7 separate regions of the Homo sapiens genome follow, and all the other regions are reported to be linked to region 3. Evidence: microRNA targets listed by miRTarBase, many of them from high-throughput screens and not tested one by one. Region 3 holds a microRNA gene; each other region holds the end of a gene's coding sequence. Distances are between the middles of the regions.
The links. The annotated mature microRNA hsa-miR-10a-5p reads UACCCUGUAGAUCCGAAUUUGUG and lies in region 3 at 792-814, shown strand. An mRNA with a match to its seed (bases 2 to 7 or 8) in the 3' UTR can be bound and repressed. Matches are read on the target gene's strand: a 7mer-m8 pairs with bases 2 to 8, a 7mer-A1 pairs with bases 2 to 7 and ends in A, and an 8mer does both.

Region 1: the mRNA of SLC3A2 is a reported target of hsa-miR-10a-5p. The part of its 3' UTR that is shown has no 7-base or 8-base seed match.
Region 2: miRTarBase lists GLOD4 as a target of hsa-miR-10a-5p. The part of its 3' UTR that is shown has no 7-base or 8-base seed match.
Region 4: the mRNA of BCKDK is a reported target of hsa-miR-10a-5p. Seed matches in the 3' UTR shown: 7mer-m8 at 2,453-2,459.
Region 5: the mRNA of RABL6 is a reported target of hsa-miR-10a-5p. The part of its 3' UTR that is shown has no 7-base or 8-base seed match.
Region 6: miRTarBase lists BTAF1 as a target of hsa-miR-10a-5p. The part of its 3' UTR that is shown has no 7-base or 8-base seed match.
Region 7: miRTarBase lists NDUFB6 as a target of hsa-miR-10a-5p. Seed matches in the 3' UTR shown: 7mer-A1 at 2,523-2,529.

The regions. Positions count from the first base shown.
Region 1 is chr11:62,888,439-62,891,502 of GRCh38, forward strand. It overlaps SLC3A2 (solute carrier family 3 member 2), which reads left to right. Exons shown (of 9, transcript NM_001013251.3): 9 at 1-422. The coding sequence ends at 255. Among named protein-coding and RNA genes, the nearest start is that of SLC3A2, 9.1 kb to the left of the region's middle.
Region 2 is chr17:757,488-760,566 of GRCh38, forward strand. GLOD4 (glyoxalase domain containing 4) reads right to left here. Exons shown (of 9, transcript NM_016080.4): 9 at 1,843-2,751. The coding sequence ends at 2,686. Among named protein-coding and RNA genes, the nearest start is that of GEMIN4, 6.8 kb to the left of the region's middle.
Region 3 is chr17:48,577,639-48,580,717 of GRCh38, reverse strand. It overlaps MIR10A (microRNA 10a), which reads left to right and starts at 771; the gene lies at 771-880. All of the region lies in intron 1 of HOXB3 (homeobox B3), which reads left to right. HOXB4 (homeobox B4) reads left to right here and starts at 2,368. Exons shown (of 2, transcript NM_024015.5): 1 at 2,368-2,855. The coding sequence starts at 2,399. It overlaps HOXBLINC (HOXB associated long intergenic non-coding RNA), which reads left to right. Exons shown (of 1, transcript NR_183916.2): 1 at 1-401.
Region 4 is chr16:31,111,808-31,114,886 of GRCh38, reverse strand. It overlaps BCKDK (branched chain keto acid dehydrogenase kinase), which reads right to left. Exons shown (of 12, transcript NM_005881.4): 11 at 2,860-3,018; 12 at 2,096-2,766. The coding sequence ends at 2,622. Among named protein-coding and RNA genes, the nearest start is that of KAT8, 4.3 kb to the left of the region's middle.
Region 5 is chr9:136,840,180-136,843,258 of GRCh38, forward strand. It overlaps RABL6 (RAB, member RAS oncogene family like 6), which reads left to right. Exons shown (of 15, transcript NM_024718.5): 14 at 1-33; 15 at 143-1,008. The coding sequence ends at 343. AJM1 (apical junction component 1 homolog) reads left to right here and starts at 2,299. Exons shown (of 3, transcript NM_001080482.5): 1 at 2,299-2,410. RefSeq lists silencers at 1,198-1,492, 2,439-2,768 and enhancers at 1,662-2,543, 1,989-2,128, 2,118-2,412, 2,544-3,079.
Region 6 is chr10:92,028,427-92,031,505 of GRCh38, reverse strand. BTAF1 (B-TFIID TATA-box binding protein associated factor 1) reads right to left here. Exons shown (of 38, transcript NM_003972.3): 38 at 69-2,716. The coding sequence ends at 2,573. Among named protein-coding and RNA genes, the nearest start is that of BTAF1, 110 kb to the right of the region's middle.
Region 7 is chr9:32,551,043-32,554,121 of GRCh38, forward strand. NDUFB6 (NADH:ubiquinone oxidoreductase subunit B6) reads right to left here. Exons shown (of 4, transcript NM_002493.5): 4 at 1,959-2,902. The coding sequence ends at 2,834. It overlaps TOPORS (TOP1 binding arginine/serine rich protein, E3 ubiquitin ligase), which reads right to left and starts at 1,544. Exons shown (of 3, transcript NM_005802.5): 1 at 1,392-1,544. The coding sequence starts at 1,394. SMIM27 (small integral membrane protein 27) reads left to right here and starts at 1,285. Exons shown (of 2, transcript NM_001387564.1): 1 at 1,285-1,437; 2 at 1,759-1,965. The coding sequence starts at 1,393. The coding sequence ends at 1,881. RefSeq lists a silencer at 105-324 and enhancers at 604-1,318, 965-1,174, 1,185-1,514, 1,319-2,032.

The DNA of each region.
Region 1 (3,064 bases), not on the chromosome of region 3:
GGGCCTGGACTCTTCTCCTATATCCGCCACTGGGACCAGAATGAGCGTTTTCTGGTAGTGCTTAACTTTGGGGATGTGGGCCTCTCGGCTGGACTGCAGGCCTCCGACCTGCCTGCCAGCGCCAGCCTGCCAGCCAAGGCTGACCTCCTGCTCAGCACCCAGCCAGGCCGTGAGGAGGGCTCCCCTCTTGAGCTGGAACGCCTGAAACTGGAGCCTCACGAAGGGCTGCTGCTCCGCTTCCCCTACGCGGCCTGACTTCAGCCTGACATGGACCCACTACCCTTCTCCTTTCCTTCCCAGGCCCTTTGGCTTCTGATTTTTCTCTTTTTTAAAAACAAACAAACAAACTGTTGCAGATTATGAGTGAACCCCCAAATAGGGTGTTTTCTGCCTTCAAATAAAAGTCACCCCTGCATGGTGAAGTCTTCCCTCTGCTTCTCTCATAGCAGGAATTTCTCTCCTTCCTCCCCTCCCATGCGTCTCCTCCAACTCCTTCATTATTTATGTAGGGTCCCAGGGCCAGAGGAGAGGGGGCCTCCCAAAGTCAACAGCATGGAGGTGTCAGGGCTGGGAAAGCACCCATGCCTCACCCATGCTGGGCCACGGGGCTCTCTGGACATCTTGGGTCTTGCCGACTCTTAACTTCATCCCCTTCAGCAAAGGGCTCTAGCCAAACATAGTTAGTTTTCCTGTTTTTGCAGACTTGGCCTTTCACGGAGAGTAGGGGTGGGATGGTCTGGTTTTTAAAAGGTATTTCTAAAGGATACTAGAGGTCATGCATTCAAGAATTTGTTGAACACTCAGCACATACCAGAAACTGTCCCTGTTCTGGGGTCACAGCAGGGAACACAGTACAAAAATTCCTGCCTCCTTGGGGCTCATACCCTTTGGGGAGCAAAGAAAAAAGACACAGCTGTTGTAGTGCAGAGGATATGGTGACAGTGTTTTTATGGAGGAAAAAGTAAAGCAGGAAAGGTGTTTCAGGGTAGAGGGGGCCAAAGGAGGCCTCACCACGGAGGTGACCTGTGAGTAAAGGCCTAATAAGTGAGGGAGTTCACCTGGTGAGTATCTGGGGAAGGGGCTTCCTGGGACTGAGGGGTGGGAGCCTGGCTGATATGAATGAGGAAAGGAGTAAGGGATGAAGTCTCATCGGCAAGGAGTGGGCAGATCATGACAGTTGTAATAAGGTGGTCACGTAGGGTGCAGAGAGTTTGGCAGCCTACGTGGTTGGAGGGCATGGTCCCCACAAGTCTGTTTTCACTTCAATACCAGCTGCAAGTTCAGGGGTCCCCATGACCACCTTCAGGTAGGTAATAGACTAGAGTGACTCAGAACTCAGGAAGGTATTGGGATTATGGTTTTATTACAGCAAAAGCATACCCAGAGCCAGCCAAAAGATGAGAGGCCTGGGGCGGGGTCTGGGAGGGAGCTAAATAAGAAGCTTCCTGCTATCTTGCAATGGAGTCCTGGTACTTCTTCCCGGCCATGACGGAGATATAACCAGAGAAGCTCACTTGATCCTTGGGTGTGCCGAGTTTCCCCTGGTGTTTAATCACATAGTGCCCTGTGGCTGACCTTTAATCTTCAGCCCCTGTGAGAGCTTTGGGCTAAGGCCTTTAGTTGTCTCCATTTCCCCCAGAGGTTGCCTGTTCCAAAGCTCAGATCGTAAATCACATTTATCACTGACACTCCTGTTGGTCAGGACATTCCATGGGTCTAGAGGGCACTTACCAGTAGCCGAGGGTAAAGGCCAGACTTCCAAGTAAGAATTCTTCACTACACATAGAGTCTGAGGGAGTGGAATGGGAGTTGTTGGAGGGTTTTGAGCAGAGTGACATGGTCTCGCTTGGAATTTAACAGACTTCACTGGCTGTTACTAGCCAGCTTGCAGGGAGGCCAGTTAAGATGGTTTGTTCCTGCAACCTAGAATACTTTCTAGGATGGTAGTAGTGGAGGTGGTAAGAAGTGTTAAGAAGTGTTTGGGTCCTGCGTTTCTTTTTTTTTTTTTTTTTTTTTGAGACTCACTCTTGTCACCTAGGCTGGAGTGCAGTGGTGCGACCGCTGCAAGCTCCGCCTCCCAGGTTCATGCCATTCTCCTGCCTCAGCCTCCCGAGTGGCTGGGACTACAGGCGCCCGCCACCACACCCGTCTAATTTTTTTGTATTTTTAGTAGAGACGGGGATTCACCGTGTTAGCCAGGATGGTCTCGATCTCCTGATCTCGTGATCCGCCCACCTCGGCCTCTCAAAGTGCTGGGATTACAGGCGTGAGCCACGTGCCTGGCTGGTCCTGCGTTTATTGTGCAAGCAGATCTGCAGTATTTGCTGTTGGGATCCTGTTGCAGTACTAGTGATCTGCGCAGGCCTCATGGCCCTTGGAGTTAGTTCGGCTCTCTTAGTTTTCTTACAGAAAAGAATGCTGGCTGGGTGCGGTGGCTCGTGCCTGTAATCCCAGCACTTTGGGAGGCCGAGGCAGTTGGATCACCTGAGGTCAGGAGGTCGAGAACAGCCTGACCAATATGGCAAAACCCCGTCTCTACTGAAAATACAAAAATTAGCCGGGCATGGTGGTGGGCGCCTGTAATCCCAGCTACTCGGGAGGCTGAGAAAGGAGAATTGCTTGAACCTGGGAGGCGGAGGTTGCAGTGAGCAAGATCACACCACTGCACTCCAGCCTGGGCAAAAGAGCAAGACTCAGTCTCGGAAAAAAAAAAACAAAACAAAAAACGCGGGTCACTGGTGCAGGCTTCACTTCCCATGGGCTGTGTCCTGGAGTGGGCCTGGGCCTCTGAGGGTTTCCTGGTGTAGGGGAGAGATCAAGACATTAAAAGACCCAAATTAAGGCCCAGGATCCTGAGGCTGTCAGCACAGTTCCTGAGAAGACACTCAGCCTGCTGGGCCTTGGCTTCCCTCTGCCTAGGGTTTCCCTTCTCTCTCAGCAACCACCCCCACACCCGCCCCACCTTCTGGCTGTTGCCTGCTCTGGGCCTCTTCCTGAGGCTCCCCACCCTTCCCTGTCCATGTCCTTTCCCAGGGTCCCAGCTCCAGCCCTCCCCCTTTCCTCC
Region 2 (3,079 bases), 48 Mb from region 3:
TTTTTTTTTGAGACGGAGTTTCGCTCTTGGTGCCCAGCTGGAGTGCGACAGCGTGATCTCGCTTCACCGCGACCTCCGCCTCCCAGGTTCAAGGGATTCTCCTGCCTTGGCCTCCTGAGTAGCTGGGATTACAGGCAGGTACCACCACACCCATCTAATTTTGTATTTTTAGTAGAGATGGGGTTTCTCCGTGTTGGTCAGGCTGGTCTCGAGCTCCCGACCTCAGGTGATCCGCCTGCCTCAGCCTCCCAACGTGCTGGCATTATAGGCTTGAGCCGCCGCGCCCGGCCTAAATAATAATTTTTAAAAATTACTCTTTTTTGGTTTAGAATTACTTAGCTGAACTGTGCAGAAGCAAGCTTCTGGATGCCTTGATAAAAAGCCAAAGTTGTACACTAGAGGGCTTTAGGATGAATAAAATGTTAAAAAACGCCAACAGGACGAGGTGGCTGATCACCTGAGGTCAGAAGTTCAAGACCAGCCTGACCAACATGGAGAAAACCCGTCTCTACTAAAAATACAAAATTAGCCATGTGTGGTGGCACATGCCTGTAATCCCAGCTACTTGGGAGGCTGAGGCAGGAGAATCGCTCAAACTCGGGAGGCAGAGGTTGCGGTGAGCCGAGGTTGCGCCATTGCACTCCAGCCTGGGCAACAAGAGTGAAACTCCGTCTTAAAAAAAAACAAAAACAAAAGCAAAAACAAAACGCAACAAAGCGAGACATGACAGGCAATGAAATAAATAAAAGGAGGCAGATCTCCTAAAGCCAAAATGTCCTATGCAGACAAACAGCATTACTGTTCACCCTGCATGGTGCCCACTATCATGCACAGTTGTATATTTAGGAGAAAAACGTTTTGGTACGCCAAAATACAAGATAAGCAGATAAAAGGGAAACCTGTGTGTGTTATTTAGTTATTCGGTACTTATATAAACCACTTATTTTACTACAACAAACTTCGAGGGCCACATTATAGCAGCCCAATACACTGGGAAAAGGAGTTTCTTTTCACAAGGACAATATTACTAGAGATGAACATTAAAAATTACTTAATAATCTAATAGAAAATTGGAAAATTAACATACATTCTAAAGAGAAGCAGAAGTTTACCTGGTTATTCAAAGTTCATATAATAATTTCCACATGTATAAAAAAAAAGAGAAGGGCACGGTGGCTCACACCTGTAATCCCAGGCTGAGGCAGGTGGATCACCTGAGGTCGGGAGTTCGAGACCAACCTAACCAACACGGAGAAAGCCCATCTCTACTAAAAATACAAAATTAGCCAGACGTGGTGGCGCATGCCTGTAATCCCAGCTACTTGGGAGGCTGAGGCAGGAGAATCGCTTGAAACCGGGAGGCGGAGGTTGCAGTGAGCCAAGATCACGCCATTGCACTCCAGCCTGGGCAACAAGAGCGAAACTCTGTCTCAAAAAAAAAAAATAAAAAATAAAAAGAACCAATTACCTAGAGGAGGGCCATATATATAACTTGGTTTGCTTTGAAACTCAAGACTGCTTCCCTAGGATATGGAATTCAAGCTGAATGAAAAGTTGTAGAGCTGGATGAGAATTTATTTCTCTCCGTGAAGGTATAATAGCATCACCCCTATAAGAAGATAAGCTCAAATACAACCAAAATTTCGATGCCCTACGCCCTGCCAGTAAGGGAGGAAAGCAGAGGTTACGATTTACAAGTAATTCTCTATGTGTTCTTTGGGAACCAGGATCCTCTGAGTCAATCCCTTCCAATCTCCTAAGTTTATTTTTAAAAATCTGAACCTGGCCACCACTTTACATGATGAGACTTAGAGACTGGTATCACAGCTTGATTTCAGAAGCTTACTTTCAAAAAAAATTTATTCAATGAATACACAATATAATTCCATTTCGAGTGATTAAAACCTATTTGTTGTTTAGAACCAAACAAAACTACAAGAAAACATTTTCAAAACCTTTTTTTTCAGGCTGAAGAAATCGTTTAATCCATTTTAAAGAAATCTCACATGATGTTCTGTCGGGATTAAAAATATACACGGAAAAAAATAAAACAAAATATATACACAGAAAGAAGCTCGCACAGAGTCAGGCGTGCAGCAACGTCACACACTCATTCCTTTCTGTTTCCTCTGGACACTCAAAATGTGAAAGCAAGTAAGAGGGGGGTGGTTAACCAAACCTTTTGGTCCAAGGAATAAAATTTCTTTAAAAAATTTAAAACGTCAAAACCTGCCAGAATAAGACAATAGAAGAGCGTATCGTCAGGCGCTGGGAATGGCACCACGACAAGGCATTAATGTGGATTCACTTGCACAGCTGCTCTCATAAAAGCTACACGATTCAGAGGTAACCCTAACTATCCGCAATCCCAACCAAAGTCATGTTCATGCCGCTGTCCTAGTCTGGACAATCATCTGTCACTCATCCAACACAGTTATATACAGAATGCGCAGTCCCAGCAACAGTGTAGATTACAGCAGGCGTTCTCTACCTGGACTCATGATTGGATTTCATTTCTAAATTACATCAGAGCTTTCAAAGATTGAAATACACAAATCTGCACTACCCAAGCCTCCTTGCCTGTACGGGAAACAAATCAGAAGAGCATTTATTGGGAACTGACACGTCAGGCCTCACAGGTGCTGGGCAGGAATCACAGAGGCTTGCTCTGCATCATGTCTTCCGTTAACCTGAAGCTTTGGGTTTATTGTGTTTGGCAAACCACTCGTCACTTTTATCTGCTGCCATTGCCTGTAAAATAGAAATAGAATATACACTGACTCCAAGCCTGAAAAACAAAAGACATAGCCCACTTTATATCTCACTGTACTGACCACAATAAAAAAAATTAACATTAAAAAAAGGACCCAAACCCCCGCTCCAAAAAAAAGAGAAGAGAAATAAAAAAAATTTTTTAACATTTAAAGAGTATTAATCCAGTACAGAGTGTTATGTTCAATAAGGCAAGAGATACTGGTGATAATGAGCAACTGTGGATCCTCACTCGGCAGAGTCAAGGGCAAACCAAGCCTGTAGCCAGGAAGTGTGGCTGGCGGACCAACGAGGTCAGGGACCCGCA
Region 3 (3,079 bases):
TCTCTCCTGGCTCCCAGGATGTGTGAGAGGCTGGGAGGGGCCCTATATCATCTGGCTGCATCTTTTATGGTTCCTCATTGCCCTTCATTCGGAAATGAAACGCCTTTGATCTTTTCTCAGGTTGTAAACGGAATTGCCCGTCATTAAATATCCGGGGCCCCATCTGCTTGGTCTCCCAGCATTTTTCTTTACAGCTGTTTCTCTCTCTTTTTACCACTGAATTTTTCCAAAAGGACTTTTATTACACCACCTTCACACCCAGCCGCCTCTTCCTCCTCCCTTCGCTGAGAGGCGCTTTGGAAAATATCTAGATATTCGTTTGATCACAAACTAAAGGCTTGGAGGGGCACGGAGGAGCCGATTGGGGTTTTGTTTTTTCTAAAAAAAAAAAAAAAAAAAAAGTCCTGGGGGGAGGGGAGGGGCGCGAAGGCACCCAGAAAGGCCTGAATCTGACTTCGTGGCAGCCTCAGAATGACCCTTCCTCCTTTTGTGCTTAGCTAATGTTTACATCTCATAATTCATGCGCCACCGAGAGTTGCGCGGCGGCGGCGGAGGCAAGGTTCTCGTCCCTTTGCGAACTGGCTACTTGAAATTCTAATAGAAGAGGAGAATTGAAAACCTTGTAATCCCAAGAACAGACTCGCACTGCCTTTTTCTGTTCCCAGAGCTCAAAACTAGAACAAAACGAAATAAAACCAAAGCACTCAAACCACACCCCAAACGAAGAAGGCGCGGAAAGTAGGAGAACTGGAAAATTTCTGGGCCAAGAAGATCTGTCTGTCTTCTGTATATACCCTGTAGATCCGAATTTGTGTAAGGAATTTTGTGGTCACAAATTCGTATCTAGGGGAATATGTAGTTGACATAAACACTCCGCTCTTATTTTTCCAGAAGAAAAAAATATATATATATGTATATGTAGTATTTTTCTGAATGAGGACAGTCTGGTGACTGGCCACACGAAGACTCCTTCCTCTTTATTCCTCTATCTTTTCCTCCTTCAACTGGTTAGAGATGGAGAAATCATCTACCTGAACTCTCCCCACGCCTGCCCCTGGGAGCCTTGGTCCCTTTTCACATCTCTTTAAGAGGTTAATGTTATTGTTGTTGAAGTTTTAAATTTATCTTCTCGTCCCAAACGCACCCATTTTCTATTCTGGGCTCAGGGAGGCTTTATTGGAAATTGCGAAAAAAAATGACTTGTCTTCAGTGTGCGAAGAAGGCAAAGGAAATTTGTTTAACAAACGGATGCTGAGGCCGCCTTTCCGTTTCAGTTCAGAACAAGATGACCTGGAAATACTCGATTACCAAGGAGTGTTATTGTCTGTGTGGGTCACCTCTATGGCTGTATCCCCAGTATCAAAGGGATGTGAGATTTCTATTCGCCGCGGAGGCGGCGACAATTAGAACGTCTCGGACCCATGGTTAGTATTGCTCGGGTGGTTATGGAATTAGCAAATTGCTAATCAATTTTGCTCTCAAAAGTTGCAGGTTTTTTTACCCCAGCGCTCTGTCTATAGTGTGGGAAACCAAGTCGTTTCTCCAGGCTTGGGCCGTGTGGGTTAAAGGGAGGAGTGGATAGGAGAAGGGGGACAGACGGACTGACGGACACAGTCTAGCTAACCGTGCAGCTAAATGAGATTTGGAAGGCGAAGTCTCCCCGAATTAGTGCATGAATTTCCTATCGATCCGCCCGCGGTTCCATTCATCTCTGACAAGTCCCTCTGCGCACCCGCCCTCTAGCTCTGGACGCCTCCTCTCTCACCCCTACCCTTCCCCATCCAGCTGCAGAGAAAAGCCCCAAGCTCTGTGCTCTGGCCCCCGTATGGGTTCCCCTTTCGAGACGGAGCCCCCAACCCGCCAGTAACCTAACTCCCCATAGAGACGCAGGGTGCTAGCGCTCCCTCCCGCCGAGGGGAGGAGACTGGGGCCTTTGGAAGGTACAGAATGCTGGGCAGAGGTGAGGCAGAACAGGAGGGCTACACCGGGAGCCCCAACTTCTTAAGGGATCTAGGGTTTGCGCTCTGCCTAGCGCCCCAACAGGCCCTCCAGTCGCAACCTGCGCGCGCTCTCTCTCTCGCTCTCTCTCTGATCCCGGAGAGAGCGAGGCAAGGAGGGGGTCGCCCCGCAGGAGCCCTATGTAAATCCTGGTGTTGGGTGGGTGGGTGGGGAGGGGGAAGGGAAGAAGGGGAAATAAACCTCTTTGGCTGGAGTGGGGTCCGGGTGAGCAGATTTCCTTATCCGGGAATCGCAGGCGGGGCGGCCATTGGCTCGGAGGATCACGTGGGCGCCTAACTTTGTTCACTTGACAGTAAGTAGGAGGGCTTTCGGAAACAGGAAAACGAGTCAGGGGTCGGAATAAATTTTAGTATATTTTGTGGGCAATTCCCAGAAATTAATGGCTATGAGTTCTTTTTTGATCAACTCAAACTATGTCGACCCCAAGTTCCCTCCATGCGAGGAATATTCACAGAGCGATTACCTACCCAGCGACCACTCGCCCGGGTACTACGCCGGCGGCCAGAGGCGAGAGAGCAGCTTCCAGCCGGAGGCGGGCTTCGGGCGGCGCGCGGCGTGCACCGTGCAGCGCTACGCGGCCTGCCGGGACCCTGGGCCCCCGCCGCCTCCGCCACCACCCCCGCCGCCCCCGCCACCGCCCGGTCTGTCCCCTCGGGCTCCTGCGCCGCCACCCGCCGGGGCCCTCCTCCCGGAGCCCGGCCAGCGCTGCGAGGCGGTCAGCAGCAGCCCCCCGCCGCCTCCCTGCGCCCAGAACCCCCTGCACCCCAGCCCGTCCCACTCCGCGTGCAAAGAGCCCGTCGTCTACCCCTGGATGCGCAAAGTTCACGTGAGCACGGGTGAGTGCGTGGGCACCCCTTCCCCCTCCCACCCCTGGAGCTTTACACCAAAGGGACTTCGGAGGCATGGGTTGGGGGGGGGTTGAGCTGGGGAAGCCAATTGTCCCCGCTATAAACTCGCCATTGCCGGAGATTTACGGTCGCCTGTTTTCAGAGCCACATAATTACATCCCCCATAAATTTTTATGGCCTGGTGGGCCCTGCGCCTTTGAAGTAGGTTCCCC
Region 4 (3,079 bases), not on the chromosome of region 3:
AAATATTGTAAGGATGCAGAACCCACAGATCTGAAGAGCTGACTTCATATCTGCTGTTTGGCAGGGCCAACTGTAGGACTTGAGCGCCTGCAGATTTCGGTATTCACAGGCGGTCCTGGAACCAATCCCCAGCAGTTAAGCATGTATAACTATCAATCATATAACTATGTAACGGTTGAACTATCCGTCTTAGCAATATACAAGTGTATTGCAAAGTGCCAGACCGGGTAGGTACTCAGTAAACATTCCCTTTGGCTATTCTCTGAATCTTGTTTGATTTATAATGTGGTTATTGGGCTTGGAAACAATTCTGAGAGGAGTGGAATGCTCAGGGCCTGCGGATGGGTCTCTCAGAGGTTACAAATCAAGAAACATCCGACAGGCATGGTGGCTCATGCCTGTAATCCTGGCACTTTGGGAGGCTGAGGTGGATGGATCACGAGGTTGGGAGTTCGAGACCAGCCTGGCCAACGTGGTGAAACCCCATCTCTACTAAAAATAGAAAAATTAGCTGGGTGTGGTGGCACGCGCCTGTAATCCCAGCTACTCGGGAGGCTGAGGCAGGAGAATCGCTTGAACCTGGGGTTGGGGGGGGGTGGGGCGGAGGTTGCAGTGAGCGAAGATCCAGCCACTGCACTCCAGCCTGAGCAACAGATTGAGACTCCGTTTAAAAAAACAAAACGAAACAAAACAAACAAAAAAACAATGTAGGTGCTCCACCCAGATCCTCTGGGAGTTCTTGCTGTTTCTGTGTGCCCAGATTACCTTTGATGTGCTTTCAAAGACCCACACCAGCACCTGAGGCTCTTCTTAAAAAACCATCCTTAGGTTAATAGAGCTGTTCACTTTCCCAACTGACTTTAACCAGTGACTGCCAAGTGGAGAAATTAATCAGTAACTCTGAGGTTTAGCTCTCTTACCTTCAACCCTGAGGCATAATTGACTGGTTCTGGGCTTTTGCCTGAGGTCACATCCTTGCTTGGCTTCCTCCCCTTCCCCTTCCTACTTCCCCTACTCTGTTCTGGGAGCACTTTCTTAAGAAATCACGTGGACATGAATCCTCTCAGGGACTCCAACCAGAAACATCCCTTCCCAGCTCAAAACCCACTCATGGGCCAGCTGCAGTGGCTCATGCCTGTAACCCCACCACTTTGGGAGGCTGGGGTGGAAGGATCATTTGAGCCCAGAAGTTCAAGTCCAGCCCGGGGCAACATAGGGCTTTGTAGAAACCCTGTTTCTACAAAAAATTTTAAAATTTAGCCTGGCATGATGGTCCAAGCTACTCAGAAGGCTGAGGTGGGAGAATCTCTTGATCCCAGGAGTTCAAGGCTGCAGTGAACTCTGCAGCCACCATATTCCAGCCTGGGCAACAGAGCAAGACCCCATTTCTAAATAAATAAAAACTCACCCATGGATCCCTATGGCTCAAGATAAATCCCATGTTTCAGGGCCCTGGCCTCTGACTGCTGCCTGCCTCTCCAGCCTCAGCACCCTGCCTTGCAGCTGGCGGGATTTTTCAGTCTAGCAAGTCACTGTGGTTTCCTAGCCCCTGCCATTTGGCTTCCACATACAACTTCCCCTCCATCCCCGTGAAGGGTAGGAGATGGTACAGGCCTAGAGCCAGCCTCAGGAAGTTTGCTGTGGGAGCTCACATGTGAAGGCAAGAGAACTTTCCAGTTCTCCTCCCAGCCCCACCAGGCCGCCCTTAGGCCTTTCTTCCCTGGCAAGGTGGGTAGGGTGTTCCTACCTAAGATGTCATCTGGAGTTCTGATTCAGGTCTAACCTTGAGCCTACCTGATATCTTTGCCCAAATCCTTGGTCCTTTCTATCAGGGCCCCACCTTTCCTTGCAGTGGGGCACCCAGTCCCTGCTAGGGCCTGCCAAGGCACAACCTTGTATGTTCTTTTCCTTGGCAGCAGCAGACACAGTATTTTTAACCTACTCAGGCTTGGGAAGCAGTTGGCTCAGGAGTTTGCCCAGTCTGGTGACCTTCACCTCTAGAAACTGTGACTGCCAGGAAAGGAAGAGTCAAAACTGATGCCCGAAGCTGGGTCAGTCTGGGCCTTCAATATTATCTGGGACCCGGAAACATTTGTTCAACAAGATGAATGAAAGCTCTTTGTATAAGGTGCTGCAGTCATCCCACTCCCACCAAATCAAACATGCAACAGACTTGGGACCCATTCTACTCCTGGCCTGCCAGGCTCTCAGGGCAGGTAAGAGACTGGGACACGAACCAGTTCAACCCAAGGGCTCAGTGAACCTGAATGGGGGCAGAAACAAAAGTTCACCTGCCCTCCCCACACACGGGGCCCGAGAGGGCATTCAAAATGTGAACTTTAATAACAGGTCAGAGTGGGGGTTCCCCAGGAACGAGAATGACGGAACTGGTGCTGGAGGCCTCAGGGTGCCCACTTCCCTGCTCCAAGTTCTGGAGGCGAGGAGGCAATGGACCCTGTTGAGGCAGGGCAGTGCCCAGCTCCATGTAAGTCCATCTGTCTGGGTCCCTGAGACCCAAGATGCAGCAGTGTGTGGAGCAGGGGGCCGCCCTGCCTGACCCGGGAGGTCCTGCAGGGAATGCGGCCCAGGCTGGTCGGGTGAGCAGGCCAAAGGCTGTGGGGTCAGATCCGGAAGCTTTCCTCCCGGCCATCGATGTGGCGGAGCCGCAGGTAGACGTCCGTGCCAATGCCCTGCAGGGACTGCAGCTGCAGAGACCCACCGAGGTACTCCGCGTAGGCCCGTGACGTGGGCAACCCGAAGCCAAAGCTGGGGGTGGGCAGGGGGACAGGACAGGAGGCTTCAGAGGCTTGAGTCTCCTGGGGTCCCCCACCCCTCCATCCTGGCCTGGCAGGGTCTCACCCGTGCATGGGTCCTGACTGGGCGCCACTATGCATGTCCAGATGGCCAAAGAGGGGGCTGATCCGGGGGTCCTGTGTGCTGGCCTCAGCAGTAGTGAAGTGGTAGTCCATGACCCGGTCCAGATCTTTGTGAGCGATTCCTCCACCACGGTCTGAGATCCTAGCAAGATGGCAACAACAATGGGCTTGGCTCAGCTTTGATGGGGTACTCACCACCCCCC
Region 5 (3,079 bases), not on the chromosome of region 3:
GAGAAGAAGAAGAAGAAGAAAAAAGGCAAAGAGGTACTGGCTACTCCCCTTCCTGGCAGGCCAGGACTGGGTGGCATGCGGTCCTGGGACCAGGGCTGTGGCTTCCTGTGACTCCATGGCGCCCCATCCTTGTGCTCCTCAGGAAGAAGAAAAAGCTGCCAAGAAGAAGAGCAAACACAAGAAGAGCAAGGACAAGGAGGAGGGCAAGGAGGAGCGGCGACGGCGGCAGCAGCGGCCCCCGCGCAGCAGGGAGAGGACGGCTGCCGATGAGCTGGAGGCTTTCCTGGGGGGCGGGGCCCCGGGCGGCCGCCACCCTGGGGGTGGCGACTACGAGGAGCTCTAGGCCGGCGTGGGCAGTGGCCGCCCTGGGGCGGGGGGCGTGCCTGTCACTGCCTGGGGAGGCATTTGCCTCTGTACCATCGCCTTTGCCGCTGCCCCGTGGCTGCCGTGTGCGCTTCTGAGCTGGAAGAGGCCGGGCATTGGTGGTCCCCAGGCTGGGCCCTGCAGGTGCTGGGCCTTCAGGCCCAGTGTGAGCCTGCTCTGCAAGAAGGGAGGGGACAGCTGGCTTCAGCCAGGCTCGGTGGACACCCTGGCCCTCTCGGGGCAGAGCCGCCAGTGTTTCTCAGGGATGTGACTGAGGCCCAGGAGGGACCTGTGAGGGTCTGTTTACAGAGGCTGGGCAGGGGCCGCTTGGCTGTGGGGTGTGCGCTGCCCCGGCACCTGCTTGCCCTCCGCGCTCATCTGGGGCCGCAGCATGCCTATGGTTCCGCTTCCGGCCGGGAGCCCTGAACACGGGTGTGCAGACTCACCCTAAAGGGCGGCCCAGGCCCCACGCTAGAAGGCTGGCGAGACCGAAGGCAGCATGTGAGGCCTCTCCTGGGAGTGGGGGTTGTGTTTCCCACAGTGGCCTCAGCTGCGCCCCCGCTCAGGTGAGCCCGAAGGCAGGAGCCGGGAGGCACTCCTCCCAAACACTCCACTCAGACCATAAAGCACTCCTGTTTCACTCTGCGTGTGTCTGTTCTTCTGCCTGTACCTCTGCTCCCGCTGCCCCGGGCCCAGGCTGCCGTGGGTTGGCAGGAGGCTGCCCAGCAGTGGTGTGAGGACGTCCCACCAAGTCTGGCCACACCCTGGGTACATTCCAGCCCACCTGTGCCAGGGCTCAGCAGCTGCACGCAGCACGCTTGGCGACCTCAGCCCCAGGAGGTGGAAGTCCACTCTGCAAGGCTCCCAGGCAGCCGCCTGCAGCCCTGCCCCCCGCCTTCAGGCTCCTGCCCCCTCCAGCTGTCAGCAGCGCCCAGCCTCCACCCCCACAGCTACTGTTGCCATGAGAACCCTGCAGGGCAGGCAGGAAGAGTGTGCCAGTGAAGGGGAGGAGGTGGCCAAGCTGGAGGCTCCTCTGCCTGGGAGCCTTGTGGCCCCAGGGTGTTGGGCAGTCACTGCAGTCCCTGAGCAGGTGCTGTGGCCCACAGCAAGCTTAGCCTGGCCCCTTAGCCCACAGCCCATGAGGTCAGGGCCGGGTTCAGGGGTTCGCCTGGTGTGGGGATGGGTCGACAGTACGTGAACTTGACAGGATCACACCATGGACGGCTATGTTGGGGTTTCAGTGGGCCCTGCTTTGAACAGTGCAGAATGGGGTAGGTCCTGCCCTTCAGAGCCAAGGGCATCAGCTCCCCACCCCTCTGCCAAGCTAGAACGTTCCCAGGCCCAATGCCTTGGGGAGGGGCTGGCAGAGTGGGACGAGGACATTACCAGGCAGGTATGGCAGGTCACGTGCAGGCCTTCCCAGGCTGGCAGGGACCGGATGCAGGAGTGGCCTCACCCAGAGAGGATGGCATCCTGGGGACACAAGAGGCTGCAGGGGCCATCTGGCCCCAGGTACCCGCCAAGATTTTGGCATTGGCAGCCTTGAAGCAGATAGGGCCTGGGGAGAGGCCAGTGGGGCACAGAGTAGCCCATCTGCTCCTGCCTCGCCCGACAGGAGATGCGAATTCCAAGATGCCCCTGACCAATCTCTGCAGCCCAGGCCAGGGTTCGGGCCCCTCCTCTCAGGCAAGTGTGTTGGGGTGACACTGGCGGGACTGGCAGGCTGCTCCGGGCCACAAGACTCCTGCTTAGACACTGAGGTCTGTGTCTTGGGGGTGCTGCAGGGACCCTGTGCTCTGCACAGCCCCAAATTGGAGCCAGTGCAGCTCATGATCCCCAGCTCCACGGTGCAGCCCCCACTGGGTGCGGCCCCTTTAAGTACAGCCCCTTCAGCTGCCATCAGGGGCAGCACTGAGCAGCCAGGCCAGGATCCGCGCTGCTGCCTGGAAGCTTCTGCCCGTGCCGGGGACGCAGCAGTGCCGGGGACACAGAGGAGCCGACCTGGGGGTGGCACAGCCCACCGGGGCACAGCCAGAGCAGCACCCAGGTAAGGGGCTAGGGGCCGAGTTGCTGAGTGTGTCACCGTCATGGGCGGGGGAAGCTGCCTTAGGGCAGCCGAAAGGATGGGGAGTCCCCGCCCCCAGGCAACACCGGCTGTATCCCTTGAAGGGCCGCTCCCAGCCAGGGCAAGGCAAGGCAAGGCAGGGCTGGGAGGTGGGGAAGGCCGCCAGCCATCTCCGTGGGCTCCAGAAGGCCTTGGGCCCGGGAGAGGGCCGACCCCACCCCCATCCCCACGGGAGGGGGTGTCACCGACAGCTGCAGCCAGCAAGGCCGACTGTCACCTCCCTGGGGTGGAGCCTCACACCCTGTCATCCGGCCGGATTCCGGCCTGGCCTTGAGCTTAGCATGAAAGAGGGAGCAGGAGGGTAGACAGTCCTGCCACGGGTGGGGTGGAGGGGGGAGATGGGGGGGTGGGCGGGGGAGGCTGGGATGGGCACAAGGCCTGGGACTCGTGGCCCTGACCCAGAAAAACAGCCCTGCCAGCAGGAAGCCCCTGCACACCTGGGACACAGAGGGGGGACCCGGCCAGACCCCGAGAGGCCCATCCACCTGAGGTTCTGCCCTGCAAGGGGCCTGGCCAGGTACCCGCTTTCCCCAGCTCACTCTGGGGTAGACCCCCCAGACCAGGTGTTGGGTGTGCAGAGGCCAGGCCTGT
Region 6 (3,079 bases), not on the chromosome of region 3:
TGTTACTTTTGTATAATTTCTATTATGTTCGAATTCCACTTTTGTCTATAAGTGATCACATTCTCAAATAGCTTCAGTGGAATATTTACTTTTGAATAAGTAAGTTCATATAAACCATCCAGAAGGAATAAGGCTATACCAGTTCAATCAGTCCCAACATCAAAGACTTTTACCCTTTCACTAGAATACTTTTTGGAGAAATGTTTGTAGAATAAATAAGCATATACAATAAGCATATATATGAGTGAATATATGAAACAAAAATTATACCCAGGCCCCCAAATGTTAAGATTTTCCTACAAGAAACCCAAATGATAAGACTAATAATCTCTGAATCTATATTTTTAACAGTTTGCTATTTCCTATCATAAAGACACAAAAACCAAGGGAAGTAGTACAATGGATATCTATGAACCCAATTCCCAGTTTAAAATAGTTAACATTCTATCATGCTTGTTTGACTTCCCACACCCATACATTGAAAAAACTACCAAATCATCACATCCATGAAATTGACAGCAGTTCTTTAATATCATTCATTACTCAGTTCAATTCTCCACATCTCTTCATTATTCTTAAGATGTACTACAATGACTGGGTCATTTAATTAAGAATACTTAGTTCTTACCTGTTTACATGTTTTCCTTTCTATGGAAAAGTTGGAATGTGTGATTTACTATTTTACAACTCAAAAGATTATTTTAAAAATGTTATAGCCACTCTAAGTTTTCCTGTCAGCTCTGACTCCTGTTTCCCATTCAGAAGCAACCACACATCATTTTTCTAGTCATCCTTCTAGAAATACACACCTTTTGATTAAACTCTCAGAAAGTTTAAACAGCCTAAATATCTGACTTCTAGCTCTATCTGACATTTCAGATTGGGAAAAAGTACTAACTTTTATGGTGTGATTTCTTTTGCCCCTTCATAGCCCTTTAATGATATATTGCTCTGTACTTATTCTAAGAAAATATCAATTACTATAAGCTATGTTAAAGAGCTGGTTTATGGAACTAGCAAATAAATAGTTAATAAAAAAATATTCAACTCAAATATACTGAAATGTTCTACATAAAGTTTTGAGTTAAAATCCTAAACAATGAAAAAAAACCTGTATACCTGAATAATCTTTTGCTCTTTCTAGTGACCATTTCCTACAAATAACACACAGTTGCATATATTTTACAGTTTCAATCTTATATTTATTCTCTTGTGGAATGCTAGGTTTAATGTTACAGTATGGTTGTCAAAGCTAATGAAATGTGACAAATGTCTAAATGCTGCAGAACAGTATAATTTTAATTAAACAAAACACCTGTTATTGTACAGCTGAGGTCTGATGGTTGTTAAACTGATGCCTATGTGTATGGCCAGCCACAAACCTTGGGGATGTTTATTACCTGTACATATATATACAAATATATCCCATACATATGTATGCACACAGGCATGTATTAATTTATGCGTGAAACTTATAAAATTATATATACAAACACATACATGCACATCTATCTACATATACCTACCCTCACCATTGAGTAATCAGCCTCATGCCCAATTATTATTGCTGCCCAGTATAACTACATGATTTTAGTGCCAATACCAGGCACCTTTTTGGGTGCAGGATAGGTACATCTATGCATATAGATATGCATATTCATGTATGTTTGTGTATATAAAGAAATTCTCTCTCCCTTTTATGCTTCAGCCATGCATTACTACAATAAACAGTCTTTCCACTGTAGGTGTTGGAATTCTAAACAGTGTAAAATCTATTTCTGGAAAACTGTGTATGTTCATAGTTACAAAAAATATATTATATATATGATTGAAACCTATTGAGTACATATGTTATTTGAATCTGGCTATATCGTAGCCATTAGATAAATTAAAAAAAACCACCCTCTAAATAGGATGTTATGGTAGCCTTAAATATACCATTACCTGTATTTAGAATAGTTGATATTATATCTTAAAAGTTGAAAAAATGATGTTAAAGATTTGAAAAACACTATGCATCTGCATTAAATATATAAATGTTTCCACCAAGGGCCCGATTAAATTCATTGTCTGACATTTTCATGTTCTAAGACTGACCAATATCATAGTCATTATTCTTATATTCTTAAAATTATGGCTCATTAAGGCTTTTATAGAAAAAAAGCCCTATTTTAAATCAATTATAAAAACAAGTTCTATTTAAAAGAAAAAACATATACAAACACTAAAGTACTCATGGATATCATCCTGTACAAAGTGACTAAAGATAGGAGGCCTGTTCCCATTAAGAACACCTCCTGGTAGCACAAATAAACCTGGTTTGGTTCCTCTGCTCTGCAGCTTTTCAGCATGTAAAATTTAAACCATTTCACATTAACATTTAAATTTAATACAGTGCAAATATTTGAGAATAACTTGTTTCCCCCAGTGAAACAAGAGCCAGCATTATGCTGAATATTCTCCAGATCTATTTACACATTGAGTTAAAAGTTCACCATAAACTTAGAAATTTGCTGAATATCAGCAGAAATGTAACTGAACTAGCAGCAATTGCATTTACAATATTTGATAGTTACTTGAGAGAATGCATAAAATTTTCCAGGCTGTACTCTGAATCATACTGCTCTTGATCCCAAAGATCACTCAGGTTTTCAAGAATTGATTTCATACTTGCTTTCCCAGAAGTAGAGGTGTCAGCTTTTTCTGCTTTGCCATCCTTAAGAAAAATTGGCAAAAAAAAAAAAAATAAAATGAGAGGTTAACTTCACAAATTGTATTTTCCTTTAAAATCACACTTGTTTCTAATACAATTATTCAACAGAATTGAGTACTTCAAGTGATGGGGAAATTCATGATCTCCAAATACATTTATTTGTCAGTTTTTTATTTGGAAAGAACTTCAAAATTATGGAAGAATTATAAGAACATAACAAAGAACTTATTTGCTTTATCATTCTCTCTCCCCATTTATATATGTGTATGTATATATGGATGTCAGAAATATAGTTAGATATCAGTTTTTTCTCTGAACAATTTGAAAGAAAGTTGTAGACATCATGTCCTTTTATCCTTTGAGAGG
Region 7 (3,079 bases), not on the chromosome of region 3:
GCGCATCAAAACACAACACCCGCCTTCCTCACGCATGCGCAGCAGATGGACGCCGGCCTCGGGGGCGGGGCTCAGCGCACCGGCCCAAATGCGGCCCCTCCCCCGCCGCTCCAGACCCCGGAGGAGGGCAGCGCGACCCTCCCCATCTTGTTACTGGTACTCAGCCACTGGGGACACTGACTGAATGTTCGCCCCTAACTTACCCGGAAAACACGAGAACTAGTTCGATGTCGTTTCAACCTTACCAAACTCTGCGGAAACTTAGGAAATTATCTTTAGTGTCTAGATAGGGGAATTGTTAGATGGACTTGAAGTCTCTCACCTCCTGTTGTACGCCTCCCGGAAGCAACACCAGGAGTCCAACGGGATCCCAAACCAGAGCCCAACCAGTATCCTATAAAGTCTTCAGAGAGGGATCCCCTCCAGGCTGGGGAGAAACAGGACAACCTAACAAAACAGGGCCTGGACTCCTCCCTAAACAGACCACGTTTTTCTCCGCTCTTCCCCTTCCCACTCCCTGAAATCTAGACTAAAACTCTTTTAAGATAACTGCGAGGTATAAAGAACGTCTAGAGCCTAAGCGGCCCGTTGCCAGATTCTACTCCTCAGGCCTCAAATGTGAGCGCCCCAAACATTCTAGAGCTGAACCTGGTACGCTCGCCCACCAAACTGCCGTGCTCGGGGCTTAGTATCTCACGCGCGGCAGTTCAAGAACATCAGACACGCTCAACAAACACTTGTTGCTTGACTGATACATTATGGCGGGTAACGCGTCCCACGTATTTCTTCTTAGAGATATACATTACGCTATACGTTTCTGAAGAATGGCTCGATTTACAGGGGTTCCCACAACGATTTGTCACATATAAAAGAGTGGGTGGTATTTTTACGTCAAAGATGAACAGGCGAACGTCCATCTAAATCGTGTGGTATCAGATGCGGGGAGGCGTGGGGGAGGGAGCGGGGGAGAAAGCGTTAATTCTTCCAGCTTTAGAGCCAGACGTAATATTTAAAACGTGGATTGTTTTTCAAATTAACTTTTAAATGGACACGACAGCACCTTATCCTGCATTAATATTGCATTGCAACTAGAAAGAAAACCAGTGGAGGTACGCCTATCTCCTTAGTTGGCAAAAAAAAAAAAAAAAAAGCAATTTTTAACATTTTCTCGTTTATTCCCCTCTCTAAAAGGCGGGCAAGGCCCCCGATCACGTGATACCGCCCCCCAACTCCGGGCGGAAGAGGCCAGCGACAGCGCTGCACGAAGCGAGTGGGCGGGCGCTCGTGCCCGGCTAAAAGATGGCTGCTGGCGCCTGGCAGCCACCGCCTGGGAGGTTACTGTAAGGCCCGCAGCTCCCGCCAGCTCCCGCGGACTGCTGCCGCCTCCTTACCATGAAGCCAGTAAGTCGTCGCACGCTGGACTGGATTTATTCAGTGGTAAGTCCCGGGGATCGCGGGCCCCCACCGTGTCGACTCACTGGGCCCGCAGGCGGAAAGGCCCTATTTCTTCAGCACCCAGAAACTCCAAAATCCATTCCTGAATTAAGCATTTCACTCCCTCACCTCGACTCCGCCTCTTCCTGGAGGATACGATCTTCCGCTTCTTACGTAAGGGCTGCTGGGTGTACCCGCCACTGGAACCCCATTTATTCGACTTTGTTACTTTAATTCCCACCTTAGCAATGGCAACGGTAACCTGACGGGGGCGAGGGGAAATATCAGGTAGATTTCACACCTCCTTTGCGATTTTTGGTTTAGTTGCTGCTTGCCATCGTTTTAATCTCCTGGGGCTGCATCATCTATGCTTCGATGGTGTCTGCAAGACGACAGCTAAGGAAGAAATACCCAGACAAAATCTTTGGGACGAATGAAAATTTGTAACTCTTCTGGATTTAATTATCTGAAAATACAGTTCTTTCCCTCATGCTTATGTAGATATAAAAATAAAATTCATAATGCAAAGTTCCCAAGTTTATTTTTGCATTATCCTTTATAACAAGCACTAGTATGCAAATTTTTCACTTAGAGATTTTAGTATTTTACATTCTCATGACAAAATTAACAGCAACCTAAATCTGACAGTCTTGAGTGTCAGATCATAGTTGGAATAAGCTTTTCAATCAAGTTTCTAAATTCTTCAAAAATGATTCGGAAAGCTTTTTTTTTTTTTGAGACGGAGTCTTGCTCTGTCGCCCAGGCTCAGTGGCACTATCTCGGCTTACTGCAAGCTCCGCCTTCTGGGTTCACACCAATCTCGTGCCTCAGCCTCCGCAGTAGCTGGGACTACAGGAGCCCGCCACCACGCCCGGCTAATTTTTTTGTATTTTTAGTAGGGACGGGGTTTCACTGTGTTAGCCATGATGGTCTCGATCTCCTGACTTCGTGATCTGCCCGCCTCGGCCTCCCAAAGTGCTGGGATTACAGGCATGAGCCACTGCGCCTGGCCGGAAAGATTTCCTTAAAACAAAAGTGCATGGAATTGCTGTTCTTACATTTGTTTATTGTGATATTTCACTGTTGCATACCCTGATACCAAATTAGTGTAAGTACTGTGTAAGAAAAAAACAAACAAACATGTAACTAAATACTTTTCCATACCGTTTTCCAAGTCAAGAATGACCAGAAAAAGTAGGTAGTCTCTCATATTTGTTTAGCATGTCCACTTTTTACTTATTGTTAAATTACTCAGTCTCAAATTGTACAATGCTTGAAAACAGATATGACAATTTCTGAGATTAAACTTTATTAAAGTTACTTTTCCAGAAAATTCAGTAAATATGGTAATATAGGAACAAACTTAGGCTCATAAGCCTTTTAACTTTTTACATAATCTTTAATGATGTTGATCAGGAAATTCTTTCATTGGTGGAATTACTTCTCCAGTCTCCAGAATTGTATCACCCTAGGAAAACAAAGATACAGTTAGTACAAAAATCTTAAGTCTACAGAGGTGATAGTTCTATTCTGTTCTATGTTCATCAGATCTCACATGGAAAATGTACTTGAGTTCTGGCATTCCCTTTAAAAGGACCCTAGACAAAGTAGAAGCTGACTAAATCTGAACAATCAGTATTCAAAA